7 linked regions of the Homo sapiens genome follow. The protein of the gene in region 2 purifies or fractionates together with the protein of the main gene of each other region. This does not show direct contact. Each region holds a gene or a part of one and is shown on either strand. Other genes may lie near its edges.

Region 1 (4,019 bases), on a different chromosome or scaffold from region 2:
GAATTTGCCCAAGGTCACAAAGATAAGAGAGGGCACTGGGATAAGAACCCAAGCAATCATCTATTACACTATTATGCCTGTATTACAATGAGGGTATAAGATACATAGCACACAAATCAAATCCTTTTTACCTTAGTTACAATACCTTAGTCAAAGTTATTTTCTTTTTCACTTGAGCTACTGACATAATCTCCTCTTTGGCCACCTGAAGTCTTTCCTTCCTCAGTACTGCTGTGGACAGTTATCTTTCTAAAACTGGATCTTACCATATTTTTTCCTCTACTTTAAACCTTCCAATGATAAGGTTCAAACTCCTTGGCAAAGCATCACATTATAGGCCATCAATGTTCACTTAATGATTGAATAACAAGTATATGTCTTATTTCCTACCTAGACTGTAAACAACTCAAAGGAAGAAACCTTTATTTATCTTTGTAGTTTTGGCAACATATCTGATGAATTAGTGACTTAGCTGGACTCAGTCTTACACAGACTTCCAAACTCATCCATCTTTCTTACCCTCTTCACATCACAGGCCCTTCTTCTAAGTTCTGACCCTCAAATTTTACTAATTGCTGGTTGTCATATATGATAGCTATTGAATTAACATTGTGGCTGAGAGCACTTAGCATATATTATCTCATTAGTCCCAACAATCTTATGAAGCAGGCATTTTAATCCTATTTCACAGATAAGAAATTAGAAGCTGAAAGAAGTTAGGTACCTTACTCAAAGTTACAGAACTTATGACAGAGTTAGGACTGGACCCAATAGCAAGCGTGCACTTAAGTGCTGATACTGGCTGCCTTAGTATCAGCCTTCTACAAGTCTTTCATCTACTGTTACAGGCTGATCTACCCTCCAATTTCCTTAAACAACCGGTGTTTTCCTACTCTCTGGGTCCTTGGACAGCACCTCAGTCTGGTATCACATTAACACTGCTCCCCTAACAAGTTCTTGCTGAATTACCCCAGTGGGAGTGATTGCCCTTGGCTTTCTCTCTGCAGAGGACTTCTCATGTCATCTACCTCCTATTCATAAGCAATCAAACTCAGTTTGTTCTCAGTGTGGTCTTCTGAGCCATTTCAGGGGGTCCGTGGGTCAAAACTATTTTCATCGTAATTTCTTCTGGGCCCTTTCAGGGGATCCATGGGTCGAAACTATTTTCATCATAATTTTTTTTATTTTTTTTTTGAGACAGGCTCTGGCCCTGTTGCCCAGGCTGGAGTACAGTCGTGTGATCTCAGCTCATTGCAACCTCTGCCACCTGAGCTTAAGCTGTCCTCCCATCTCAGCCTTCTGAGTAGCTGGGACTACAGGTGTGCACCACCATGCCTGGCTAATTTTTGTATGTTTTGTAGAGACAGGGTTTGCCATGTTGCTGCAGGCTAGTATCAAACTCCTGAGCTCAAGCAATCTGCCCAGGTTGGCCTCCCAAAGTGCTGGGATTATGGGTGTCAGCCACCAGGCCTAGCTTATTTACATCATAATTTTAAGATGCTATTTGTCTGGGTTTGTTTGTTTTTCTTTTTCTTTTTTAACATTTGCACCATTAGTACAAATGTTGAATGTTTGTACTAATGGTGCAAAAGCAATTGTGGAAAAAACTGCTGGTGCCTTAGCAAAAATCAGAGCAGTGGCACCAAACTGTTGCACTCTAATAGATCATTGTATTCCTCTCTACCAAGCACTCATAGTAAAACAAATGCTAGTTTCATTTAAGAATGTCCTTGATAGGCCAGGCCTGGTGGCTCATGCCTGTAATCCCAGCACTTTGGGAGGTCGAGGAGGGTGGATCACGAGGTCAGGAGTTCAAGACCACCCTGGACAACATGGTGAAACCCCGTCTCCACTAAAGATACAAAAATTAGCCGGGCATGGTGGTGTGCACCTGTAATCCGAGCTACTCAGGACTCAGGAGGCTGAGGCAGGAGAATAGCTTGAACCCAAGAGGCGGAGGTTGCAGTGAGCCAAGATCGTGCCACTGCACTATAGCCTGGGACAGAGCAAGACTCCATCTCAAAAAAAAAAAAAAAAAAGAATGTCCTTGATAAAACAGTACAATATAGAACAATTCACAGACAAACTATGGTTATTCAGGTTTGGGTATCTGAAAGACATTTTCTCAAAAATGAAGAAAGTGAGCCTGTGCAACTGTAATTTCAAAGACAACAACTAACAGCATTTGTTGCTAATGGTAAAATGAAAGTTTTTTTTTGTTGTTTTTTTTTTGAGACAGAATTTTGCCCTTTCACTTAGGCTGGAGTGCAGTGGCGTGATCTCGGCTCACTGCAACCTCCGCCCCCAGGGTTCAAGCGATTCTCCTGCCTCAGCCTCCCGAGTAGCCGGGATTATAGGCGCCCACCACCACGCTCAGGTAATTTTTGTATTTTTAGTAGAGACAGGTTTTCGTCATGTTAGCCAGGCTGGTCTCCAACTCCTGAACTCAGGTGATCCTCCAGCCTCGGCTTCCTAAAGTGCTAGGATTACAAGTGTGAGCCACAGCACCCGGCCAAAATGAAAGTTGTTTGTTTTTTTTTTTTGAGATGGAGTCTTGCTCTGTCGCCCAGGCTGGAGTGCAGTGGCCTGATCTCTGCTCACTGCAACCTCCGCCTCCCAGGTTCAAGCTATTCTCCTGCCTCAGCCTCCTGAGTCCTGAGTAGCTCGGATTACAGGTGCGCACCACCACGCCCGGCTAATTTTTGTATTTTTAGTAGAGATGGGGTTTCACCAAGTTGGTCAGGCTGGTCTCAAACTCCTGACCTCGTGATCCACCTGCCTCAGCCTCCCAAAGTGCTGGGATTACAGACATGAGCCACCACACTCAGCCCAAAGTGAAAGTTTTAAAGAAAAAATTAGAACTTTGAAAAATTTGTGTTCACCATTATAAATTTGAGAGCGTATGACTTTTCTGATAAGATCAGTGGTGATATTAGTTATTTGCAGCTTTATAACATCTTTTCTGTTTTCTCATTGTTTTAGTATTTTAATATGTGTTTGTCTTCCCACTAAGATGGTAAACTCTATGAAGGGAAGAACTACTTAATACTTGTTTATGTCCTCTTTAAAACCTAGAGCTGAATTATATGCAGAATAGTCACTTGGTTAGTTTATGTTGACTACTTTGTTATTTTGACTCCTGGTATTAGTTAAAATGTGTGTGTGTGTGTGTGTGTGTGTATGCACACACACACGCATGTATTCATATACATATTGAGTTCATAAGAAGTCCAGGCTCCTGGTGACTCTGTGTCTGTCTAAGTTGTTTAGTTCACTTTTTTTCCCATATAACTTGCTCAAAATTTTTCTTAAATTAACTTTTTTGGTAAATGCAAAATCAAGTATTTGCTGTAAAATTAATCCAAATATTAAAAAATAAATACATCTTTCTTTTAAAAATTACTTAATGACAATCTGCGGCACTAAAGCAGGGGTTGACAAACTAAGACCTGTGAGCCAAATCCGGCCCACTGCCCATTTTTGTAAATAAAGTTTTATAAGACCACAGCCATGCCCATTCATTTACGTACCATCTATGGTGGGTTTTGCACTACAACAGCGGGTTGTGACAGAAACCACATGGCCTACAGAGTTGAAAATATTTGTTATCTGGCCCTTTATAGAAAAACTTTGCCAACTTTGGCTTTAGAGCATGAACCTTTCAAAAAATGATGTTTATAATTCTTCTTAAATTGCACATGTTGTATTTTACAACAAAATATACCTCTTATTTAAAACAAAACAAAACCAAGAGAAAAAAAAAACTCTGTAGCTAAAACTCCCAGGAATCTTCAAAAAGAATCCTGAAAAAAACTGATACAATCTCCCAAGGGGTTATGTTCCAGTCTTCTCTCTTATGGTTTAAGATTTTATTATGACTTTTATCCAGGCCTATCTATCAAAGCTAAATTATGATCACCAAAAACATAATCAAAAACAGACTGGGTAGGGTTAAAACATTTGGAGGCCACCCACTAAAAAGATTATGAGTGACACCTGCTGTTAGCCGTAAATGAATA
Region 2 (4,019 bases):
AGACTGCTGGCAGCCAGCTGCCCTTAGCTCTAGCTTGCCTGTGTGATCCCCTGGGGACCTTCCTCCGCTGATGGGCCCAGCCATGCTCCCAGGATGGCAAAACTGTTCCTTTCTTCTCCTCCACAATTAATTAGGTTTCTTTGTTACTAGGAATTAGATTAGTTTCCTGGGGTGGCCAGCATACCGCAAACTGGGTGGCTTAAAATAACAGAGGTTTATCCTGTCACAGTTCTGGAGGCTGGAAGTCACAAATCAAGGTGTTGACAGGGCTGTCCTTCCTCCTAAGGCCTTAGGGGAGAACCCTTCCTTGCCTCTTCCAGTTTCTGGGGATTGCTGGAAACTCTTAGTGTTCCTTGGCTTGTAGACTTGTCATTCTAATCTCTGCCTCCCTCGTCACATGCTGTTCTCTCTGTGTGTCTCTGTCTTCACATAGTGTTCTCCTGTGTCCAGATCTCCCACTTCTGATAAGGACACTAGTCACTGGACTCAGGGCTCACCTAGTATAATCTCATCTTAGGTCGATTATACCCACAGAGACCTATTTCCAAATAAGGTCACATTCTGAGGTTCTGGGTGGGCATAAATTTTGAGGGGACATTGTTCAACTCAGTGCAGATAATATGATTTTTATTTATTTTTATTTTTATTTATTTATTTTTTGAGACGGAGTCTTGCTCTTTTGCCCAGGCTGGAGTGCAGTGGTGCGATCTCAGCTCACCACAACCTTTGCATCCCAGGTTGAAGCGATTCTCTTGCCTCAGCCTCCTGAGTAGCTAGGATTACAGATGTGCATCACCACGCCCAGCTAATTTTTGTTTTAGTAGAGATGGGGTTTCGCCAAGTTGGTGAGGCTGGTCTCAAATTTCCGACTTCAGATGATCCACCTGCCTCAGCCTCCCAAAGTTGATTATTTATTTACTTGAGACGGAGTCTCACCCTGCCACCCAGGCTGGAGTACACTGGCACAATCTTGACTCACTGCAACCTCTACCTCCTGGGTTCAAGCGATTCTCCTGCCTCAGCCTCCCGAGTAACTGGGATTATAGGCATGTGCCACCACACCCAACTAATTTTTTTTTTTTTTTTTTAAGATGGAGTCTCGCTCTGTTGTCCAGGCTGGAGTGCAGTGGCATGATCTCGGCTCACTGCAAGCTCTGCCTCCTGGGTTCATGCCATTCTCCTGCTTCAGCCTCCCGAGTAGCTGGGACTATAGGTGCCCGCCACCACGCCTGGCTAATTTTTTGTATTTTTAGTAGAGACGGGGTTTCACTGTGTTAGCCAGGATGGTCTCGATCTCCTGACCTCGTGATCCACCTTCCTCAGCCTCCCAAAGTGCTGGGATTACAGGCGTGAGCCACCGTGCCCGGCCCAGGATTTTTATAAATTCTAACAGTACAAAGAGTTTTCCATGCAAAGTAAGCTTCCCTCCTGCCCGAGGCCCCACAGGCCTCCATTCTGTGTCCCAGGGGCATCTACTGTCAATCTCTTTTTTTTTGAGACGGAGTTTCGCTCTTGTTGCCCAGGTTGGAGTGCGATGGCACAATCTTGGCTCACCGCCACCTCTGCCTCCCAGGTTCAAGTGATTCTCCTGCCTCAGCCTCCCAAGTAGCTGGGATTACAGGCATGCGCCACCACACCTGGCTAATTTTGTATTTTTAGTAGAGATGGGGTTTTTCCATGTTGGTCAGGCTGGTCTCCACCCACCTCAGCCCCGCAAAATGCTGGGATTACAGGTGTGAGCCACTGCGCCTGGTCTACTGTCAATCTCTTAAGTCGCCATTAAGAGGTGATGCATAAATTAGCATCTCTGGATGTCCTTGCCACCTCAACACATGAGGTAGCATACCACACATCCTCTTCTGTTCCTTGGTTCCTTTTTTCAATTCACTGTCTTGGAATGTTCCATATCAGCCCATCAGTTCTCCCCTGTTCTTTTGTTCAGCTGCCCCTCTAAGGCCTGGTGGTCTTCCTTATGCATGCCACTGCTTCCAGGGTACAGGACACATCTGATCTTCTTGTTGCTATTTAAGGAAGGTGGGGTGGGAACATTATTCCCATTTTCAAGATGAGAACATTGAGGCCTAGAGCAGTCCAAGGCTGCTGGGCAGAGCTGGAGCTCAAATCCAGGTCTCCTAGACTTGTGTCTAGGGTCATCCCCTCCCCAGCATGGTCTTCCACCAAGGCAGAGGGAACTCAGGGAGTCTTGCTGCTACAGGGAACCAGGCCACCCCGCCTCCCCCGTCCCCACCACTTAGCCAACCTTGAGGAGGTCATCTGCTGGGGGTCCCAGCAGCTCACTGACCTATACCTCTCACCCCCAACAGTGCACCTGTGGCGATTCTCAGGTGGCTACCCAGCCCTCATGGACTGCATGAACAAGCTCAAAAACAATAAGGTATGTTAGTGTCCACTCAGCACACCTCTCTGGATGTGGGATGCAGCCCAGCCCTGTTCTGGGGACTACTCTGCTACCCCATGAGGCACACTGTCAGGATGGAGCGCACTTCCTGGTAGCCATGCCTTTACCACCATGCCCACAGGAGTACCTGGAGTTCCGAAGGGAGCGGAGCCAGATGCTGCTGTCCAGGAGAAACCAGCTGCTCCTCGAGTTCAGCTTCTGGAATGAGCCACAGCCCAGAATGGGTCCCAACATCTATGAGCTGAGGACATACAAGCTCAAGGTGCCTCCCTCCGACAGACCCCCTCCTGCCCCCCAATTTCCCTGCTGCAATGCTGCTTTGCAGCTGCCCCAACACCTAGACTGGGGCTTCTGGCTTCTCCCTCCCTATGGGCTCAGAGCAGAGTTGTATACACATGTGTGCAAACATGCACACCAGGTGTGTGTCAGGGCCTGCGAATGAGGCCAAATGGCCGCTGCAGCTTGGGAGGTGGGGAGACAGGGCAGTTTCCCTTCCTTGCCAAGCTGTGATGCTATGAATCTGAGGTGGGGGCTCATTCCCATCATCCCTTTGGTTCTCTTTCAGCCAGGAACCATGATCGAGTGGGGGAACAACTGGTAAGTGGCAGCACCAAGACTGGGGTTGGGGGAGGCGTACCCTGCTCACCTGCCCCACCAAGGCCCCTGGTGGGCCACCTTTTCCAGGGCCATATCACAGGGAACTCTTTACCTTCTGCCCCTCATGGATCTGGGAGAAGGATCCAGCCAGGAGGTGAGGATCTCCTAGAAGGTTGTGACCCCTCCGTTGGTAGAACACCCCGCCATCAGTCCTTTCTCTCAGCATCCCGGAGGACCGTGGGTTCCACCTAGGCCCCTCCTGTGAAGTGTGGCCAAGGAATCAGCCTCAGTACCCTCTGCACCAGCCCTGGCTTCTGCCCCATATTATTGTGCCTTCTCCAGGGCTCGGGCCATCAAGTACCGGCAGGAGAACCAGGAGGCAGTGGGCGGCTTCTTCTCACAGATAGGAGAGCTCTACGTGGTGCACCATCTCTGGGGTAGGTTGAGGACCTTCCAGGAGCCTTTTGTTAGTTCTCTTTCTCTGTCATCACTCTCTGTAGCCAATGGGGTTGTATTAGTGTCCTCATAGAACTTAATGTTCTAGCAGGAGACACTATCTTAGATGTAAAGTCACAAAAAGATCAATTTCAGATTACAAATAATATTTATAGAAAATAGGCAAGGAGTCTGGGAGCGGTGGCTCAAGTGTATAATCACGACACTTTGGGAGGCCGAGGTGGGCAAATCACAAGGTCAAGAGATCGAGACCATCCTGGCCAATATGGTGAAACCCCATCTCTACTAAAAATACAAAAATTAGCTGGGCGTGGTGGCGCATGCCTGTAGTCCCAGATACTCGGGAGGATGAGGCAGGAGAATCAGTTGAACCCGGGAGGTGGAGGTTGCAGTGAGCTGAGATCACGCCATTGCACTCCAGCCTGGCAACAGAGCGAGACTCCGTCTCAAAAAAAAAGAAGAAAAAAAAAAAAGGCAGGGAGAGATGATGGTGAAAAACATAGGGGATCTACATTGGTCTAGGTAGACAAATAATGCCTCTCTGAGG
Region 3 (4,019 bases), on a different chromosome or scaffold from region 2:
AAATACAACATTTCTCGATATATATTTTGAGAATTGCTGTCTTTCAGAACCTAACAGTTTCCTTAAGAAGGCTGATATTTTCATCAATGGGTCGCAGTTAGGAGAAGATTTTATTCAATTGCATAAACTTCTAAGAAAGTCCACCTTCAAAAATGCAAAACTCTATGGTCCTGATGTTGGTCAGCCTCGAAGAAAGACGGCTAAGATGCTGAAGAGGTAGGAACTAGAGGATGCAGAATCACTTTACTTTTCTTCTTTTTCCTTTTGAGACAGAGTCTCACTCTGTCAGCCAGACTGGAGTGCAGTGGTACAATCATGGCTCACTGCAACTTCGACCTCCCAGGCTCAAGCAATCCTCCCATCTCAGTCCCACAAATAGCTGGGACTACAGGTGCACATCACCACACCTGGCTACTTTAAAAAAATTTTTTTGTAGAGATGGGGTCTCCCTGTGTTGCCCAGGCTGGTCTCTTGAATTCCTGTGCTCAAGCCATCCTTCCACCTCAGCCTCCCAGAGTGCCAGGATTACAGGCATGAGCCACCACACCCAGCCACCACTTTTCTTAAAAAAAAAAAAGATTCTCTCTGGTAGACAATCCTCAATAGTCCACATGTTATTAAACAATCTGCTGCCTGAATACATGATTTACCAAAAAAAGGAAATTTTGACGGGTTCAGAATATCAAGGGATCTGAGGCAAATGTCACCTATGATAAAATTTGCTATCAAAATTAGGAAGTTTGTGTTTACCTGATCCTAAAGCAGTAACCAGCCCATTTCTAGGGAATAAAACTCTCATGCGTATATTGTGCATATATATGTATTATATGACTGAGTGATAATAAAATTTTTTTTCTAGCTTCCTGAAGGCTGGTGGAGAAGTGATTGATTCAGTTACATGGCATCAGTAAGTATGTCTCCTATTCTTAATACTAGGAAAGTAAGGCTAGCTTTATTTATTACCTAGTATTCAAAAAGTTAGTTCATTTAACTGCCAATTGACTGCAGTTCAAATAAGAAACAAATAGTGTCTCAAGTAGCACTGTACTCCAATTTTAATATTAATAAAAAAAATTTAAAGTTATTTTAAATAATGTAGTGGTTTCTATAAAGATCACTTTATACAGAAGAACAGTGCCAATTAACCCATGGAACATATAAGTAGCTAAAACCAATTGCTTGCCAAAGAACCAGTAACCCAGGAGTACATGTACTTGCCACTGTGTTTTTTCAAGACAGAGTAACTGATTTCTAGTTACTTGCATAGAATGGACTCCTCCTCATAACTCCCTTCCATCTTGGTCTTTCCCTAGTAGAACTTCTACCTTTTTTTAGTAACAGGTGAGTGGGAGAGGTAAGAAGGAGAATAAGGTCAGCAATTAACCTAAAAGCAGAAAGTAAAATTTGTTATTTTTTTTCTGAATATTTTCTGTGTAATTTAGCTACTATTTGAATGGACGGACTGCTACCAAGGAAGATTTTCTAAACCCTGATGTATTGGACATTTTTATTTCATCTGTGCAAAAAGTTTTCCAGGTAATAGTCTTTTTAAACTTTTTAATGTAAAACCAGAATCCTTATTTTATAGTCTAGCTAGTTCTAAATTCTATAGGTATGTATATTTACATGTTTTTCTAATTTTAGAGAACAAGCACTATGACTTATCCACTGTTAGTTTTCCCCTTAGCATTGGGTCTTACCCCATGTACGTGATTAGAAATTTGAAATATTTCCAATAGCCTTTAGTAGAATTAACTCACATAGATGATAAGAATGGGTTGGTTCACTTCATGTTCCTTCCACAGCCTACTATTTCAATAAAAGAAAGTTTCCCAAGACCTAAATGACTATGAACATATTTTATAACTATATAGGAGGGGTGGGTCTAGGAATACAAAGTTTTGAATGCTGTTAATCTTCAACACCACAGTTGAAACCACAGGTCAGCTTTTTTGCAATTACCATGGATACTTTTCTGTTCTATAGGTGGTTGAGAGCACCAGGCCTGGCAAGAAGGTCTGGTTAGGAGAAACAAGCTCTGCATATGGAGGCGGAGCGCCCTTGCTATCCGACACCTTTGCAGCTGGCTTTATGTGAGTGAAGCAGCGCTGGCCTTAGGGGTCAGAGTGCAGCTCTTCTCCATCCTTCTATTCTGCTGAAATAGCTCCCCAGCCAAAAAGCAGATCAAAGACCATTTCAGTGGCTGAGCCCCAAAATTCATGCCAGATTTTGCAAGAAAATGATTTACTAAAGCTTGAGGGACATCTTTAACAAGTGTTCCAAATTAATCACTATAAGGATGAATTGTTTCAGAAATTTTGGCCTTTAATTATGGCCCATAAATATGTCAAGTAGTCCTTACTCTAAAGAAGTACACTGTAAAAGAATGCATATAGCCGGATATGGTAGTTCCCTGTAATCCCAATACTTTGGGAGGCCAAGGTGGGAGGATTGCTTGAGCCCAGGAGTTTGAGGCTGCAGTGAGTTATGATGGTGCCACTGCACTCTAGACTGGGCAACAGAGTGAGACTGTCTTTTTTTTTCCCCTCTGTCACCCAGACTGGAGGGCAGTGGCACGATCTCACCTCACTGCAACCTCTGCCTCCCGGATTGAAGCGATTCTCCTGCCTCAGCGTCCTGAGTAGCTGGGACTACAGGAGTATCACCGCACTGGGCTAATTTTTGTATTTTTAGTAGAGACGGGGTTTTGACATGTTGCCCAGGCTGGTCTGAAACCCGTGAGCTCAAGTGATCTGCCTACCTCAGCCTTCCAAAATGCTGGGATTACGGACATGAGCCACCACGCCCGGCCACACCCTGTCTCTTAAAAAAAAAAAAAAATGCAAGTTAGAGCATATTACAGCTTTGTCTCTCAGGAGGATACTTAGTGTATGTAGCTATAATTCATAGATTCCCAAGAAGTTTAGAGCCTAAAGTATGAGGTCCCACCAGAGGGGCTATCATTAAATTTAAAGATTTGTTAAATCATCTCATTGTCCAACACCACAAACTTGATTGCTTTAAAATACTGGTTTAGTTACATTTAGTAACTCTATTAGTGCTTTTAATCTATACTGCTATATCCTCACATTGAGATTTTTTTTCTTTTCTCTTCCATCTTCATTCTTTTTTCTCTCATCCTCATTCTTATAAGCCTAGAATACATCACAAATCCTTTATGCCCATGGAAGCAAGAGGAATAAAGAATGGAGATGTTTGTTTTGCCATTAACTAAAGATCTGGGGTGTCGGGGAGAAGGGGGATAGAGAAGGAGAAGTGGGAAGAGGTGTCCATAATAGCTTAGGTGCAATTCTGCTTATTTTACATTTTACCCCCGCTGACTGCCACTTTTTCTTCAGCCCTCACACATTGTTTGTGCAGGGACCTCATAGGACCAGGAATTGTCTATAGAGGTGGGAATTTGTCTCACCCTGAAAGGGATACCTCTAGCATGGTAATAGTCTTCTAGGATTTGTTATCATATGGAAAGATGTAAAGGGAGGGATTCTGCTGCTGCTGCTGCTGCTGCATGCAGTTGCCATTTCATTTAAATGACTTATTTATAATTGATGACACTTTTCTGGCTTCCTGTTAATTCCTCCCTCAAAGATCAATAAACCAGAACCAGGCATGGTGGCATGCACTTGTGGTCCTGTAACCACCCAACAGGTTCACCTTGCCTGCTGTCTAGATAGAGCCAATTATCAAGACAGGGGAATTGCAAAGGAGAAAGAGTAATTTATGCAGAGCCAGCTGTGCAGGAGACCAGAGTTTTATTATTACTCAAATCAGTCTCCCCGAACATTCGAGGATCAGAGCTTTTAAGGATAATTTGGCCGGTAGGGGCTTAGGAAGTGGAGAGTGCTGGTTGGTCAGGTTGGAGATGGAATCACAGGGAGTGGAAGTGAGGTTTTCTTGCTGTCTTCTGTTCCTGGATGGGATGGCAGAACTGGTTGGGCCAGATTACCGGTCTGGGTGGTCTCAAATGATCCACCCAGTTCAGGGTCTGCAAGATATCT
Region 4 (4,019 bases), on a different chromosome or scaffold from region 2:
GATCATTAGGGTATGACTGAAAGTGAGAAACAGTAATTTGTAAAACATTTACCTAATAATAGCTTTCCCAAACAGTACTTCCCCTGGAATTAAAACAGGAAATACAATTTATGTTTATACGTGGTTTTAGATATGACTCAATATACATAGATTTTAACTTTATGGTTTGGTATTACTTTTTTAAAGGCGCTCAATAGAAATTCAAATCTCACTTTAAGACCATGAATTTCAAGTTGCAATGAAGTGTACAATAAAGTTGTGATTTCTCAACATCAAAGTTTAATTATTACAAAATAGTTCAAGCAACAGATAGAATTTCAAAAACAGTATTTGCTTTGCTTCCTTGTTTTGCTCCAACACTAATCATGCTGAGGTTTTTGAAGCACAGCTATGACTAGGGCAGGCACTGCTGATTCAGTCACAAAAACCCTTCTTGGATGAACAATACTTGTTCTTTTCAGAAGAAAAGCAATTTTACCTTTTCTATTTCTATTATGAAAAACAGAGCTAAACAATTTTTGTATTTTTAGTAGAGACAGGGTTTCACCACGTTGGCCACGCTGGTCTTGAACTCCTTCAAGTGTTCTGCCTGCCTTGGCCTCCCAAAGTGCTGGGATTACAGATGTGAGTCACCCCGCCCAGCCCTAAACAATCTTAAAGTCTCCTTTTCCACCAGATGACTAAAATCTTTAGTTTGTAAATTCCCTTAGTCTCTTAAAATCAATCTATCCAGAAGACAAGAAAGACAAACTTAGTGAAGGAAAGAATGCTTCCTCACTCTCTCACCAGAAAGCCAAAGCAAAAATAGAGCCCCACAGAAATTTCAACATTGAACATTTTTTAAATCTTAAAGCTTAGTAGGAATCAAAAAGCTTTATATAAGTCAGCAGATCTGCAAACCTTGTTAGTTCAATACAAACCATGATCTAGCAGACAACTTATATTCAAAAGCTCATCTTTCAAAAGGTTCCACCTTGCCCGTCTATTTAAACAGTCACGACCTTCCTTAGAGAGGCAAGCAGTAATCTTACATGACACATAAAAGCTGTTTCACTGTGACACATATATAATGAAAAGTAATCAGTCTCCAAAGTTTTTCCAATCCACAAGCATGCATACACACACACACATACACACACCGCTTTGGTACTCTTGTCTCTAATAATTTTTAAAGCCTACTTTTCTAACTGAATTTTAAAAGTACCTTGAATTTAAATTTTTTTTAAACTTCAGTCTTCAATATTGAAACTGCTAAGTTACCCCATTTTTCCATGAAAAAAAAATAGAAAAATAAACTTGGGGAAAAAATTAAAAATAAAAAATAAACTTGGGAAAACATTACTAAATAGGTTTAAGAAAAAAGCCTATATAGGCCAGGTGCAGTGGCTCACACCTGTAATCCCAGCACTTTGGGAGGCTGAGCCAGACGGATCACTTGAGGTCAGGAGTTCGAGACCACCCTGGCCAACATGGTGAAACCCTGTCTCTGCTAAAAATACAAAAAGTAGCCAGGCATGGTAGCATGCACCTGTAATCCCAGCTATTCAGGAGGCTGAGGTGGGACAATCACTTGAACCCGGGAAGTGGAGGTTGCAGTGAGCTCCGGTCGCGCCACTGCACTCCAGCCTGGGCAACAGAGCAAGACTCTGTCTCCAAAAAAAAAGAAAAAAAAAAAACGCCTATATAAAGAAAATATTCCAATAGGAGATAAACCTATGTACACAGAGTTGCTCACCCCAGCATTATCTGTAGTAACAATTAGAAACAAATGAAATATTCAAAAACAGTAAATTAGGCAGATGATGAAACAACATGGCAAATGTATGATGCTAAGCCAAATATACAAAAAGATCCCTGTGAGACGGAGCAGGGACCCCTCTTTGGGGTGTGCCAGGGGGATTCCCACAAGCACAGAAATAAAGGAGAATCTTGAGTTTCCTTCACCGAAAACTCCAGGCACCCAGCTCGCCCCGAGAAGGAAACCAGCAAGCTGATAAGCAAGAAGGTCATAACAGTTTCAAACAATAGCCAGGGAAGTTAGAGTCACCTAGAGACATCCTTAACACGTGCCCCTGAGCTACTTTTCAGAAACCCAGACCCCCACCAAATGGATTCACACAGACGTCAGATAAGGGGGAACACCAGGGACTAAACTCTGACCTCCATTCTTTGCTCTCAGTTTCTTCCTGAGGGGCCTGGCCAGACCTTAATGTTCCTTTCTGCGGACCCCAAGTTTTTAGACAAAGCTTTGCTTCCTTAACCAATCACAAATCAGGGAGTCTTTGAATCCACCATAACCTGTAAGCCCGCCCCCTGCCTACCCCACTTCACCTTTCAGGCCAAACCAATATATAAGCTTCATGTAGTGATTTACAATTTTGGTATACAGCCATACCACCCTGAAGGCACCCGATCTCGACTGATTTACAATTTTGCCTTTAACTTCTGCTTTCCTGAAATTTACCACTGCCTTTAAATACTCTAGCTTGTAGGTCATCATGGAGATTGGGTCTCAAGCATGAGCTGCCCAATTCTCCTTGCTTGGCGCCCTGCAAATAAACATCCTCCTTTCTCCTACTGCAAAAACCACCTTTTTGCAGTTTTGCTGTTGAAGTTTGCCTTTACTGTGCAGGTGAGCAAACCCCAGTTCAGTTCACCTGCTACATTTAAACAGTATACAGCTCTATTTGCAAAAACTATACAGGAACATTTGACCTAACAAAAACCACTGGGTGACATCTACCAGAAGTATCACTGCAGAGGATTACTCGACAAAAAGTGCAATTTTCTATAGAAAGCCGAGTGTTTCCCTTGGGAAAGTGTTAATATTTTATTTTTAAGTAACTGGGGCAAAAGACTAGATTTTCTATAACTGCAATAGAATAGGACTAGAAAGGCATCCCTACAAGTCCCCAAAGTATATGGATGGAATATTTTTGATGGTTTTATAAATGACAATTGTAATTTAGCTCTCTGAAGAAAATGTCCAATCAGATTCAATCACACAAAGCATTTACTATTTTCAATCACTTGCCCAATAACAAAATGTTTAGTAAGAAATTATTCAGAACATTAAGTTGTTTATGAAATAAGTGACTAAGCAACATCAAGAAATGCTACAATAGAGCAGCTTACTGTATTCTGCAGTACTCTATACCACTACAAAAACAGTCATAAAGAGCTTAACATACTCAGCATAACGATCGTGGTTTACTTTTTGCAAGCCATGTATCTTTCAGTTACATTCTCCCAGTTGATTACATTCCAAATAGCTTTTAGATAATCAGGCCTGACATTTTTATACTGAAGGTAGTAAGCGTGCTCCCACACATCAATCCCCAGCAGTGGAATAAGGCCTGTTAGAAAGAAGGGGAAAACAAACCAACCATCAGTTTCAGTCTAAAACATTGCATCTTCTCAATTTCAACTTTTATTATTCTACTCACACAAAATTACCCTTTGTAACAATCTCATTCACTTGTTTTTTTATATAAGTAGGAAATCTAGATAAGAATGAATATTCCTATAAAATATTTTTAATTCACTGTTTACAAAGAAAATGTGACAAATACTAACAATAAAATAGACTTGGGAAAATTAACAACAGTACTTTAATAGCTATTCTTAAAAATACCAACAAATTAATTCAAGAGCCAATTCCCAGCCTTCCTCATGGTGGTCTTAGGAGCAGCAGGAAGGGTGGGTTACATCTGTGGGAGCAGGCAAAAGCCCACTGAGAACCTCCTCCAAAGGGTCTGGGCACTCACAGGGGTTTACGAGGAACCAGCTCTGCTCCCCAAGGCTAATTTTAATCTTTGGGAATACAGAGCAGTTGGAGGACACAGTGTTTTCAGAAATTAAGTGAGGTAAATGAAGAATTTAGTTCTATCTGTAAAACATCCATTTAAAAAAACTTTTGGTCTGGGCGCAGTGGCTCAGGCCTGTAATCCCAGCACTTTGGGAGGCCGAGGCAGGCAGATCTCTTGAGGTCAGGCGTTCGAGACCAGCCTGGCCAACAT
Region 5 (4,734 bases), about 13 Mb from region 2:
ACAGTGGGCCGAGATAGTGCCACTGCACTCCAGCCTGGCAACAGAGAGAGACTCTGTCTCAAAAAAACAAACAAAAAAGTGTTTACTTGTGTGATAGGCCTGATGGTAACATACAAGAAAATTACTACCAAACTGTCTCCGAAGTCAATAATTATAAGCACTCTGCCCCTATGCTGGGATCCTTTTGGAAACTGTTCAAAGAGACTGAATCAAAAAGTGATCTAGCCCAGGCGCAGTGGTTCACACCTGTAATCCCAGCACTTTGGGAAGTCAAGGCAGGCGGATCACCTGAGGTCAGGAGTTCAAGACCAGCCTGGCTAACATGGCGAAATGTTGTCTCTACTTAAAATACAAAAATTAGCCGGGTGTGGTAGTGTATGCCTCTAATCCCAGCTACTCGGGAGGCTGACGCAGGAGAATCACCTGAAACTGGGAGGTAGAGGCTGCAGTGAGCTGAGATCGTGCCACTGCACTCCAGCCTGGACAACAGAACAACACTGTGTCAAAATAAATAAGTAAATAAAAGGGGATTTAATTTTAAAAATTAAATAATATATAAAAATAAAAAGTGATCTGAGAAAGACATATTGTAACATATTGGGCTCATATCCGGCCCAGCAGCACAGTTCTAGAAATTTAAGACAAATTCTGAGGTTGGTATAGAAATACTTACCAGTCAAAAGCACAGCCTAAGGCCTTCACACACCATAAAATCAGTGAAACTAATTGCGGTTCTTCAGCATCTGCGGAGCACTGGCTACCAGTAAGGAGAAAGTTGGGGATGCAGATAATCAGTGCACCCTGAGGTGACAGTTAATTCCACTAGCATACCATTTCACAGGAGATGTTATGGCATTCTACTTCATCCCCCTACTCTGAGAATGCTGAAACTGGCTGGAAATTTCAACAGTTAGCCAAATGTCAAATGTCCTTTGAAGAACTTTAATAAAATCTGGATCCTCCAAAATCCCCTGCGTAGAAAGATCTTGGAACTCCTCTGAGCCAACATACACAGACCCAATCACATGTTATCCACACATTTTCCAAGTAGACAAATATTCTCTGAAACATTTTCTGATAACTTCTTTCACAAAGACAAAAAATATGTTAAGGTGCATTCCACCTAGGTCAGAATAATACACTTTCTGATCTGAAGCACAGAACAGCAAGTGGGATTTCAAAAAAGAGCGTACCCTGACCAACTTTTATGCTCTGTTGAAGGCAGAGGCTGGAAGCTTAAAGACAGGCTTTTAAAAGCCAGCTAAGGTACAGTCTGCATTTCTCAGAAAAGTTGCCTATGGCTAAAACAGAGCACAAAATGAGAGATAAAAAAGCAAAACCACAAACCCCTGTACCGTCTGACCCGGGAGTCCTCACTTAACAGATGAGAAAATTACCAGGGAAAGTAACTTGCCCTGGGCTGCAGTTTATTTGGCGTCAAAGCTGTAAGCAGATTCCTGGTCTCCCAGGTCGGAATTCAGTGTAGCTTCCCCATCCACCTAACTGCCACCCCACGGAAGATGCTGTATAAAACTCTTCACTCTTCACTGAGGCTGTTAACATAAGGGTCCAATTATCATTCAAAGATCAGCCTGTTAGATAATAGCTCGAAAATTCCATCCATTTTACAGCAGTTACCAGAGACATCTAATCTTCGAGGAAAAAAAAGCAAAAAGGAAAAGGGGGAAATCCTAATTTTGACCTGACCCCTAAGGTCAAACTAAAGGATTGAATACAGACCAGCAGACCGTATTGGTATCCGCAACCACAAAAACAGACAATAATCCCACCCACAAGCAGAGGAAGACGGCCGCTCCTCGGCACCGCCCCCCAACTCACTAAATTCCACTCCCATTCCGGCGTCCAGAGGACAGTGCACCTCCCGCCGTAGCCTGAGAGGGATCGGCCCGATTGGCCACGCTCCTTCAAACCACCACTTTCCCCCGAAAAAGGGACGAAAGCCTCAGGTCCCCAAACGAGCGCTCCCTCGCCCAGAGACCCCGGCTTGCACACCCCGCCCTGTTCCCCGCGGCGCGGGAGGAGAGGCCGCCCCACACAGGAAGTGTGTCCTGCGCCGGGACCTTGCGCCCAACCCGCCGGTACCTGCCCTCCGCCCCCAACAGGCGAGAAGCAGCCGCGTCCACATGGCTTCAGGTGTTCACATGGCAGTAAACGGGCCCCTGCTCTCCTGGGCGCCCCAGCGCGGCGCCCTCCCGCCCACATCCCGGCCCAGCCCCGCTGGCCTCGCCTCCAGCCCGTAGCCAAGAGGCGAGCGCGGCCGGTGCCCCCGGGGCTGCCAGGGGCCCCGAAGCAGGCGGCGCTGACTCCCGGACGCCGCCCGCTCACACCCGCCGCCTTTGCACCCAAGGCCTCGCGCGACCAGCAGGTAGACCTTCCCTCCGCACCCTCGGGCCAGCACCGGCACCCAAGCCCCGCCGGAACCCCGGGCCGGCCCAAGACACCTTAGCCCTCTGATGCCAGGCCTGGCCCGGGCCCCTGCCCGCACTCTTGGGTCGGGCCGGGCAGCAACACTCCCCTCAGCACCCCAAGCCCTGACTCGGAGTCCAGGAGGCTCCGCACTCCCAGGTTGGGTCCGGCCGGGACCTCTGCTCCCAGCCCCCGAGGCCGGACACCCCGGCCCGGCCCCAGTCCTTCAGGCCCAACCCTCTCCCTGCCCCTCAGGCCCGGGAGGCGGTTACCTGCAGGAGCCCCCCGCCCAGTCCCTCGGCCTCCGCCGGGGGCGGGCGGGGAGGGAGCGGTGGCGACGGCGGGCGGCGCTGCGCGGGGTGGGGGTGGGGGTGGCTCCGCCGCCTCCAGCTCGGGCGCCCGGGCCGGCGGCGGGGCGGGCCGGGGCCGCGGCCCCTCGAGGCTCGCTCCGGCCCGCGCGCTCGCTCCCCGGTCAGGCGCGCCTCAGGGCGGGCTCCCCTGGCGGAGGCCGCGGCCGCCTCGCAGGGGCCGAAAGCGGCTGGGCTCGGGGTTTTTTCTCTCCATTCTCCCAACACACAGGAAATAACAGAGCGTCAGGTGACGGCGCGCGGCCAATGGGGAGGCTCCGGGCCGCGGCGCGCGGGCGGGCGGGAGGGCGCGCGGCGGGGCGGGGCGCGCGGCGGGGGCGGGGCGCTGGGGGCGGGGCCGGGCGCGCGCGTGCCCACCCGCGTGCGGCGGCGTCGAGGCTGGCGCGCGCCGGGTAGGGATCGCGAAGACCCCCACCTCGCGGCAGGGTCGCACGGGGTTCTCCTCTGCGGCCGCTGGGCGCCGCGCGCCACCCGCCCAGTGCCATCTTGGCCTGCGCCTCAGGGCCGTCTTGGGGGTGGACGCGAGCCAACTTTCTGGGGGAGTTGGTGGCCCGGAATCTCTCTGGGATTTCTGGAGTTCCCTGGAGCCTCCAACTCCAGAATCGCGCCTCTTGCGGCCCGGGAGGTCCGCGGGCGAGGACCCGGTCTCCTCTCGGTGACCTGTTTAGTGGGGTCGGGCGTGGGGGCGGCTCCTGCCCGCCAAGAGCCCTCTGGGCCGGGGGCAGCCCAAGACCTAGCTGGTCCCGCCTGGGTCCCTGGCAGCCCCCGCCCATGGGTTCCAGGTGTCCGTGGAGGAACGACTTGGGTCCTCTCAGAGCCTCAGTTTCCACCGCGGAAAACGCGAGGAGGGAGGCCCACCTACCTCACCTGTAAAACGGACGCTCCAGCTGCCTTCTGCTGCGGCATTAAGAAGCTGCAATGCCAGGCTGACTGCGCCCAGGGTCCCGAATTAATTTGCCGATAAGGCGGAGGATTTGCGGTGCCAAGGCCTCAGCTTGTTCCCAGCCTTCCTTTGCAAACCTGATGTTTCTAAAGCAAAGGAAGGGCTTGACTTCTTTATAAAGAAAATCGCAATTGTAGAGCAACTAATATGTAGATGTTGGTGCCCCCACGGCCATCAAAAGTGACAAGGCCAGCAAGAGTAGGATGCGTTGAGAATTTGTGATCCTGCCCCTGACCTTTGACCTGGCCAAATTCTCCTCCCACTTTGGGCCTCAGTTTCCTGTGGGTGAGGAGAGTTTGGATTAGATGTCCCTAATGTTGGCTAAAATTGCCGATTCTAAATTAGGCTCCCATCTGTCCTAGATGTTAGGGGAGTATGTGGCTTCCTCTCCTGAAGCAACCCAACTTAAAAGTTGGGATTGGAAAAGTGCTTCCGGCAGCAGGTGGGGATTGTCAGGAACCAGGTGTGGTCTGGAACCCAGATTTCCATATATTTGAGGTACACAGCTTCCCGGGGCCTGCTTTTACTTTTTGACCTTTCACCCCACCTAGCCATTGCCTTTTCTCAGGCTACCCAAGGAGGGTCTCAGGGTCCCAGGCAGAGCCCCAGGTGGTCCTGGGCCCCTTGGCAGGAGCATGTACTTGGGGAAGGCAGTGATTTCTCCTGGCTTCTGTCCAATCTCACAAAGTGGGGGCTGGCTCCAAAGCAGGTCAGGACTATTCCTGGGGACTTGATTCCCCAACACCTCCTGCATGCCAGGCTCTTCCGGGGCAGAGCTGAACAAGCCACGGGGCCCTGCCCTCTGATTATTCCCATTGTTCTTCTGAGTTTCATTTTCAAATTCTCAGGCCTCAAGACTTTTAAAAGACCAGTACCTGGCTTCTCCTGGGATCAGGGCTGTAAAGGGAAAGCTGGAAGAGGCACTCAGCACAAATCAATGTTTTCTGGACAAAAATAGGAGAATGCAGGGCCTCCTGAAGACTGGTGTTGGGGGCA
Region 6 (4,019 bases), on a different chromosome or scaffold from region 2:
AGGAGAATGGCGTGAACCCGGGAAGCGGAGCTTGCAGTGAGCCGAGATTGCGCCACTGCAGTCCGCAGTCCGGCCTGGGCGACAGAGCGAGACTCCGTCTCAAAAAAAAAAAAAAAAAAAAAAAGAAAAAAAAATACAAAATTAGCCGGGCATGGTGGCGGGTGCCTGTGACCCCAGCTCCTCAGGAGGCTGAGGCCGGAGAATCACTTGAACCCAGGAGGCGGAGGTTGCAGTGAGCCAAGATCATACCACTGCACTCCAGCGTGGTGACAGAGCGAGACTCCATCCAAAAAAAAAAAGCCAAGCATGGTGGCTCACACCTATAATCCCAGAGCTTTGGGAGGCTGAGGCAGGTGGATCAACTGCGGCCAGGAGTTTGAGACCAGCCTGGCCAACACAGTGAAACCTTGTCTCTACTAAAGAAAAACAAATACAAAAAAATAGCTGGGCATGGTGGCGTGCACCTATAATCCCAGCTACTCAGAAGACTGAGGCATGAGAATCACTTGAACCCAGGAGGCGGAGGTTGCAGTGAGCCAAGATCATGCCATTGCACTCCAGCCTGGGCAACAGAGCAAAAGTCTGTCTCAAAAAAAAAAAAAAAAAAAAAAAAACAGATGCGGTGGCTCATGCCTGTAATCCCAGCACTTTGGGAGGCCGAGGCGGGTGGATCACTTGAGGTCAGGAGTTTGAGACGAGCCTGGCCAATATGGTGAAACCCTGTCTCTACTAAAAGATACAAAAGTTAGCCAGGCGTGATGGCACGCACCTGTAGTCCCAGCTACTCGGGAGGCTGAGGCAGGAGAATCGCTTGAACCCAGGAGGCAGAGGTTGCAGTGAGCAGAGACTGTGCCACTGCACTCCAGCCTGGGTGACAGAGCGAGACTCCATCTCAAAAAACAACAAAAAAAAAGTGACACAGGTAGGAGATTCAGTACTTTCGGAGGCCAAGGCAGGCGGATCATCTGAGGTCAGAAGTTTGAGACCAGCCTGGCCAACATGGCAAAACCCCATCTCTACTAAAAATACAAAAATTAGCCAGGCATGGTGATGCATACCTGTAATGCCAGCTACTGGGGAGACTGAGGCACAATCGCTTGAACCCAGGAGGCAGAGGTCGCAGTGAGCCAAGATGGCACCACTGTACTCCAGTCTGGGCAACAATGCAAGACTCTGTCTCCAAAAAAAAAAAAAGAAAAAGAAAAAATTAGTCGGGCGTGGTGGCGCATACCTGCGGTCCCAGCTACTTGGGAGGCTAAGGTTGGAGGATCGCTTGAGCCCAGGAGGTCAAGGCTACGGTAAGCTATGATCACACCACTGCACTCCACCCTGGGTAACAGAGCAAGACTCTATCTCTAAAACAAAATAATAATTTATAAACTAAAAATAAATAAAACAGGCTGGGGGCAGTGACTCACGCCTGTAATGCCCAGCACTTTGGAAGGCTGAGATGGGCGGATCACCTGAGGTCAGGAGTTCGAGACCAGCCTGACCAACTTGGAGAAACCCTGTCTCTACTAAAAACACAAAATTAGCCAAGCATGGTGGCACATGTCTGTAATCCCAGCTACTCTGGAGGCTGAGCCAGGAGAATCACTTGAACTTGGGAGGCGGAGGTTGCGGTGAGCTGAGATCGTGCCATTGGACTCCAGCCTGGGCAACAAGAGTGAAACTCCGTTTCAAAAATAAATAAATAAATAAAACAATTCTAAAGAATCCAAAATATAACAGATACTCATAAACCACTTACAGGCACGTAAACTCTCTACCTACCTAAAAAGTCACTCAAGTACTGAGTATCAAGACCGTGAGGATGTTGGAACCCCAGTTTCTGTCTGTTCCTCACTCATTCACTCATCCATCAAACACCTACTACGTGCCAGAGCCCAGGCTGGCTAGGTACCGGGGACACTGGAATCGGTAAGGCACAGTTAGGTCCCTCGATGACTTCAAATTGAAGGTTTGATATTTGTCTATTCCCAAGACCATCTGTTCTCAGGAAATGACTGAAAGTATCACGAAGGTGCGATGCACACAAAGACTGAAAGCAACGTTCCGAACACAAAACATCGGAGAAGGAACAAACGAAAATGCCCATCAAGGGAGTGGAAAACTGAACCATGGTACATGCTCGCAACAGAACATTCAAGACCATTTTAAAAAATGATACTTATAAAGACTTAGCAATAGCAAAGGGAAAGGGCCCACACTGTAATGTACGGGAAACGGCAGAGAGACCCAAGATCCTACCCGCACCTGGGCTCTGCCCAGGACCTACCTTTGACGTTACTCAGCGACAGAGAGCGCTCCTGGTCTACCAGCCCAGGCCCCAGCCGGCCACTGCCGCCACTGTCCTTCTGCCGGGCCACAGCCACTGCAATGCCCACAGGCGGGTGTCGCACTTCTGCCTCACCCTGGGCACCAGAGCCCTCGCGCCCGAAAGCTTTGGCGCTCTCGGGCCTCTCGGGGTCCCGCTTCAGCTGCCGGCCGCCGCCCGCTGCAGGGCCTCCGGAGTGTGGGAGACGGGCCTGGGCTCGGGAGGCACCCGCAGAGGTGGGCGCAGGCTCGGGTTTCATGGTGCCCAAACCTCCAAAGGGGCTCTTCTTGCCACAGCCACCAGGGCGCACGGCCACGGCGTCCCGGGCAAAGCTGCCACTGTACTTTATAAGGCTCTGCATGGCCGAGGCCTCTCCAGACCCGTGGGCCGCAGAGTGCATGTCAGCGACCGGCCGGCCGCAGGTGGCCGCCGAGCGGGGCAGCACAGCCCCAGGGTCCAGGTAGGCCTTCTTGGAGGAGGAGGCAGCGACCACGGCGGCCTCCTCTTCGGCGCGGCTGTGGTGGTGCTGCGCGGCCAGCACGGCCATCTGCGTGGCGGCGAAGTTGCCCAGCTCGAAGGGTTTCCATTTATGCTCAGGGCCGGTGGGCGGGGGGCGCCCGGGCTCCAGGCCGAAGAGCTTGGCGGCCTGTTGGGCTGCAGGACCGGCTGGGCCGCGGGGCGCACGCTCGCAGGGCCTCGGGTCCGCCTCGGGCTTGAGCAGCTCCTTGGCAGGCACGTAGGCGCGGGGGTCCGGGGAGGCGCGTGTGGCCCGCACCGTGGGGGCATCCGCGGGGGGCGGCCGCTTGAGCGAGCGGATGACCGAGTTCTTCTCGCGCAGGCCCTCGGGCCGGTCCAGAGGCCGCGGGGAGCCGGGGGGCGCCTGCAGGACCCCTGGCCTGCCAGCCTCGCGCTCGCGGGCCCGGGCATCGCGCGCCTGGGATGCGATCTGGATGGGCCCCGGGCGCTCGTCGAAGGCCTCCACGGAAGGCACGAAGGTGGGCGCCACCACGCGGTGCTCACGGCCCTGCTCGCGGAAGACGGTGTAGACGCCGGCGGGGGTGGCCGCGGGGGGTGCAGGAGGCCCCTTGGGGGGCGCGGGCGGCGGGGGCAGCGGTGAGGGGCAGGGGCGCGGCCCAGGGAGCAGGGTCTCCGTGCGCCGCAGCAGCCGCGCGCCCTCGTCCTGCCGGGCAGCCTCCTTGGCACCCCCGCGCCCCGCTTCGGCCACCAGCGCGGGCAGCCCCACGTCCCCGGCGCCGCCGTTGCACATGGTCAGTACCGACGGCTGCAGCGCCGCATTCTTGGTCTTGGACTCAGCCAGGAAGGGCGACAGGCGCTCAGCCAGGCGCGGGGGCCCCCGGTCCTGGCGGCCCTCGGCGCGCGCCTCCTGGGTCAGGTCCACCACGCCCCGTGGCCCCGAGGCCTCCTCGCCCCGGGCGCGCGGGTCCTTCTTGCCGAAAAGCGGAGGCGGCTCCCCGCCGCGGCCCGCCCGCTCCTTGGCTGGACCGTCCCGCGACGACGAGCCTTTGGCCGGGGCGCCCGAGGAGTGGCCGCCGCCAGGGGTCCGGGCCGAGGGCGCGTGAGAGTGCAGGGAGCCCGGAGCCCCCGCGGTGGGCAGGTAGAAACCGTCTGCGGAGAAGGGAACAGCAGGCAGTGAGCGAGCGCCACCTCCCCTCCCACCCCTGCCTGGGCGGAGGCGGACCCC
Region 7 (4,019 bases), on a different chromosome or scaffold from region 2:
GTAACTTACATATATAGTGTTCCTTTACCTCTAAATACTTCACTATATCTTAAGAATAAGGTTATTCTCGCTGGGCGCAGTGGCTCACGCCTGTAATCCCAGCACTTTGGGAGGTTGAGGTGGACAGATCACCTGAGGTTGGGAGTTTGAGACCAGCCTGACCAACATGGAGAAACCCCGTCTCTACTAAAACTACAAAATTAGCTGGGCGTGGTGACGCATACCTGTAATCCCAGCTACTCAGGAGGCTGAGGCAGGAGAATCGCTTGAACTCAGGAGGCGGAGGTTGTGGTGAGCCAAGATCGTGCCATTGCACTCCAGCCTGGGCAATAAGAGCAAAACTCCGTCTCAAAATAAAAAAAAAAAGTAAGGTTATTCTCTTATGTAACCATGCTACAGTGACCAAATAAAAGAAATTATTAACATTGATATGGTATTTTTATCTAATTTACTACCTGCATTCCAATTTTGCCAATCAATTATTTATTAATATAGAATTTTTCTCCAATACAGAATGCAGTCTAAGAACATAATCTGGAACAGCTTGTGTTGTCTTTTATGCTGTTTACATTTTAGAAGTACACTGTTTTCACTTTTTTCATAGAATTCTTCTCATTTTGTCTTTGTGCATTTCCTCATGATTAGATTCAGGTTATGCAGCCCCAGGAGGGACGCCGCACAAGCATGTTGTGCTCTCAGGGATTCATAGCTGGAGACACGTAAAGTCCTTCTACCCCTCATTTGTCGTGATAATTTTCATCACCCAATCAAGGTGTCATCTAATTTTACTACTATACTACTAATTTTACTATAGAGTTAGTATTTTTTCCCTTGCAACAGGTTTTCCCTTGTAACATGTTTAATCTGTGAGGAGACACTTTAAAACTATGCAGATATCTTGCTTCTCATAAAAGTTTTCCTCATAGCTTTAGCATCTGTTGATGGTTTTAGCTTGCGTCAGTCTTTTTTATGATGGTTGCAGAATGATGCTTTTCCAGTGCCAGTACCCCCTCAAGTTTTTATCAGTTAGCACTTGGCCTTCTGCTGTAAACAGGAGCCTTCCCTTTTATCCATTTATCTATTATCAGTTTGAATTTATTTCTTTTTTTCAGTGTTTTATAATTCATTACTGACCTTTTCATGCTCAAATTTTTCCAGAATTGGTTAGTGAGCATTCCTTCAAACCACCCTTGTGTCCTTTTGACATGTGCTTATAACTTTTTTGGAGGACTTACTTTCAGACACAGGATCTTCCATTATCTCCAGGGCAGCTTGGTCTCAAGGAGAATTTTAGTAGGAAAGAAAAACAGCAACTAAAACTATAATACCAAAAGCCTGAACAGATGAGATGAAGTAGATAGTTGACAAAGTTTCCTGCTTTTTAGTTGATATAACTCTTGTAGCTTATGTTGTCAACCCTGTTTTGTTGAATGCTTTTTAGTTGCCTGTAGGTGTGCTGAGACAGACATTGCCAGCAGGGTTTTGAACACAGGGATAGAGATGTGTCTGAATGTACGTTACGGTGGTGAGAGTGAGAAAGGAGACCTCTCCTGAGAAGGTGAAAAGCAGCTGTTGAAAAAGCAAGAGGCAGTAAACTGCTCTTGTATTTCAAGCCTTCCCACCACCATTTCTCTAGTCCAGGGGGCTCTTCCTTTTAACATTAAAATGTGTGTCTTCTAATTTCCCAGTGATCCCTCCAAGTCTGTGGGATGGCCTGGAATGTAAAAACACTTAGCAAATACTTAGTGATTAAAAGAAAACAATGGCGGAAGCTTTAAGAATTGAAAAATCAAAATAATAAGTAGAGAATTTGTCCAAACCTCCCCCTGCCGACATTCCCCCATCCCCAGAAAGGAAGAAAATGTATGTAGATAAAAGGACAGAGAAAGACAGGGAAAGCTGTGGTACGGAAAGAAAGAGTGTGGCCACGAGCTTCCAGTATGCTCACTGCCAAGGAATCCTGACACGTTCTGTTTCTCTGTATAAAATCATGAACAAATAAAAAAAAAGAAAAAAATAAATAGAATCAGAAACGTTTTGCTTAGTGGGAAAAAAGCTAATTTTATCTTGGTTGCAGTTATCCAGCAACATTATCTGGACACGTGAACTAATTTTAGCGCAGCTGCTCACGTCAGATTGCTCTTTCAGCATGAAGAATCACGAGAAGTCAAAGAAGCATCGGGAAATGGTGGCCTTGCTAAAACAACAGCTGGAGGAGGAAGAAGAAAATTTTTCAAGACCTCAAATTGATGAAAATCCATTAGATGACAATTCTGAGGAAGAAATGGAAGATGCACCAAAACAAAAGTACTTCTAAATATTAAATGTCACTAGAAATACTTATCACATTCAGAGATTGCATTAAAAGGTTTTTTTTGAGATGGAGAATCACTCTGTTGCCCAGGCTGGGGTGCAGTGGCGCAGTCTCAGCTCACTGCAACCTCCAACTTGTGGGTTCAAGTGATTCTCCTCCCTCAGCCTCCCAAGTAGCTGGGACTACAGGCACACACCACCACGCCCAGCTAATTTTTGTGTTTTTAGTTGAGACAGAGTTTCACCATGTTGGCTAGGCTGGTCTTGAACTCCTGATCTCAGGTAATTCACCTGCCTCAGCCTCCCAGAGTGCTGGGGTTACAGGTGTGAGCCACTGCGCCCGGCCTTAAAGGCTGTTTTATCCCAAGGAAGTTATTCTAACTAGAAAAGATTGTCTCCATATTTTCTAGTTAATGGAACTTTATAGTGTTGAAGTGGATACAGACGTCAACTATAATATTTATAGAACATATTATCACTATATTAAAAGCAGTTTTTATACCTGGCAGTTGATAAGCTAATTACTATCCATTGAACTACAGCCTTGTGTTATTCTCTAAAATGACAATGTGAATACTTTATTTTCCTTTTAATGCTTTAAGATATTAAATATTTTTAATCTTTTACTTCTGTTTTACTACTTTATCACTAGTGTTTCAACTTTTTTTTTTTTCCACTTACTCTTCACAGAGTCAAGTATTTGACATTTCGATTTATATTTGCTCTTAGGCTTTCTAAAAAACAGAAGAAAAAGAAACAGAAACCAGCACAGGTATGTTAGAAAGGTTTTGTTAACATTAAATGCCAACGATAAAGTTGCAGTGCTCTTATTTATTCAGTGTAGTCTGTGTTAAGGAGAGAAACTTATACTCCATAATTTTATGTTGATTGTAAGATTGATTAAAAAGGAATTAGAAATATTTTCCTTTTTTAGTGCTTCCCCCCCCTTGTATGTATGTAATAACAAACTTAATTATGACTGCCAGTGTGTTTAACAAGTATGCATGTAGAATTCCCCTGGTATGAATTAGCTGAATTTTCAGTATTTTAAAAATCTGAATACATCTCACAAAAGGCTTTTAAGTCAAGACAACAATTAAAATCTTGAAATAGGAAAATCTGGGATTGGTCATTTTTTTATCTCAGTTTATTCTGCCAACAACATAAACATTGCAAAAGGAACATTTGGTTAGAAACTTGTAATGATTGTGAGTCTTGAAAAAATGTTTCTATTTTTCTGAAGTTTAAGTAATTTAAATATTTCACAGCTGAAGTCCAAATTCATTCTCTGTCTTAAGGACTATTTTTAAATAAAATGGTATTATGTTGTTATACCTATAAAAATAAAGTGAATTTGTCCATTTTACCAAGGACATTTGGATTTATGGCATTTTAGTATAATCTAGTTATATTAACTTACATTAAGTATTAAATATTTTTAAGAAAACACATTAATGCTTTTTAATAAAACTTCAGATTTGGTTTATTTATCCAAATGGTTATAATAATATATTTAATAGTCTTTTTTAAAATCAGTTTCCTATTCAAAAAATGATATATGACACATGAGTTAATCACTTAAAATTGTAATTTGGAACTTTTTGCTTCAGTTATAAAACCGCATAGCAAATATGTGTTCTTTTTATAAATTGACATCTACCATCATCCATCCAAACACCTTATAATTATTAGTTTGGAACACTTTC

What was found.
Region 1: the proteins of NIPSNAP1 (region 2) and NSMCE2 purify together in Homo sapiens (affinity purification with mass spectrometry; one large-scale study listed by BioGRID and IntAct). This does not show direct contact.
Region 3: the proteins of NIPSNAP1 (region 2) and HPSE purify together in Homo sapiens (affinity purification with mass spectrometry; one large-scale study listed by BioGRID and IntAct). This does not show direct contact.
Region 4: the proteins of NIPSNAP1 (region 2) and SOD2 purify together in Homo sapiens (affinity purification with western blotting; one study listed by BioGRID). This does not show direct contact.
Region 5: the proteins of NIPSNAP1 (region 2) and TCF20 purify together in Homo sapiens (affinity purification with mass spectrometry; one large-scale study listed by BioGRID and IntAct). This does not show direct contact.
Region 6: the proteins of NIPSNAP1 (region 2) and TNRC18 purify together in Homo sapiens (affinity purification with mass spectrometry; one large-scale study listed by BioGRID and IntAct). This does not show direct contact.
Region 7: the proteins of NIPSNAP1 (region 2) and DNAJC21 purify together in Homo sapiens (affinity purification with mass spectrometry; one large-scale study listed by BioGRID and IntAct). This does not show direct contact.

The regions. Positions count from the first base shown.
Region 1 is NC_000008.11:125,105,209-125,109,227, reverse strand, and holds part of NSMCE2 (E3 SUMO-protein ligase NSE2), read right to left. Parts: intron 1-4,019. UniProt on the Homo sapiens protein: E3 SUMO-protein ligase component of the SMC5-SMC6 complex, a complex involved in DNA double-strand break repair by homologous recombination. Is not be required for the stability of the complex.
Region 2 is NC_000022.11:29,560,168-29,564,186, reverse strand, and holds part of NIPSNAP1 (protein NipSnap homolog 1), read left to right. Parts: intron 1-2,324; coding exon 2,325-2,395; intron 2,396-2,540; coding exon 2,541-2,681; intron 2,682-2,984; coding exon 2,985-3,016; intron 3,017-3,358; coding exon 3,359-3,453; intron 3,454-4,019.
Region 3 is NC_000004.12:83,306,919-83,310,937, reverse strand, and holds part of HPSE (heparanase isoform 1 preproprotein), read left to right. Parts: intron 1-47; coding exon 48-216; intron 217-859; coding exon 860-907; intron 908-1,442; coding exon 1,443-1,536; intron 1,537-1,986; coding exon 1,987-2,093; intron 2,094-4,019. UniProt on the Homo sapiens protein: Endoglycosidase that cleaves heparan sulfate proteoglycans (HSPGs) into heparan sulfate side chains and core proteoglycans. Participates in extracellular matrix (ECM) degradation and remodeling.
Region 4 is NC_000006.12:159,679,283-159,683,301, forward strand, and holds part of SOD2 (superoxide dismutase [Mn], mitochondrial isoform A precursor), read right to left. Parts: intron 3,357-4,019; coding exon 3,211-3,356; 3' UTR 1-3,210. UniProt on the Homo sapiens protein: Destroys superoxide anion radicals which are normally produced within the cells and which are toxic to biological systems.
Region 5 is NC_000022.11:42,267,640-42,272,373, forward strand, and holds the start of TCF20 (transcription factor 20), read right to left. Parts: upstream 3,015-4,734; 5' UTR 2,700-3,014; exon of another isoform or gene 674-2,699; intron 1-673. UniProt on the Homo sapiens protein: Transcriptional activator that binds to the regulatory region of MMP3 and thereby controls stromelysin expression. It stimulates the activity of various transcriptional activators such as JUN, SP1, PAX6 and ETS1, suggesting a function as a coactivator.
Region 6 is NC_000007.14:5,385,394-5,389,412, forward strand, and holds part of TNRC18 (trinucleotide repeat-containing gene 18 protein), read right to left. Parts: intron 3,944-4,019; coding exon 2,279-3,943; intron 1-2,278.
Region 7 is NC_000005.10:34,942,719-34,946,737, forward strand, and holds part of DNAJC21 (dnaJ homolog subfamily C member 21), read left to right. Parts: intron 1-2,148; coding exon 2,149-2,307; intron 2,308-3,003; coding exon of another isoform or gene 3,004-3,042; coding exon 3,043-3,085; intron 3,086-4,019. UniProt on the Homo sapiens protein: May act as a co-chaperone for HSP70. May play a role in ribosomal RNA (rRNA) biogenesis, possibly in the maturation of the 60S subunit. Binds the precursor 45S rRNA.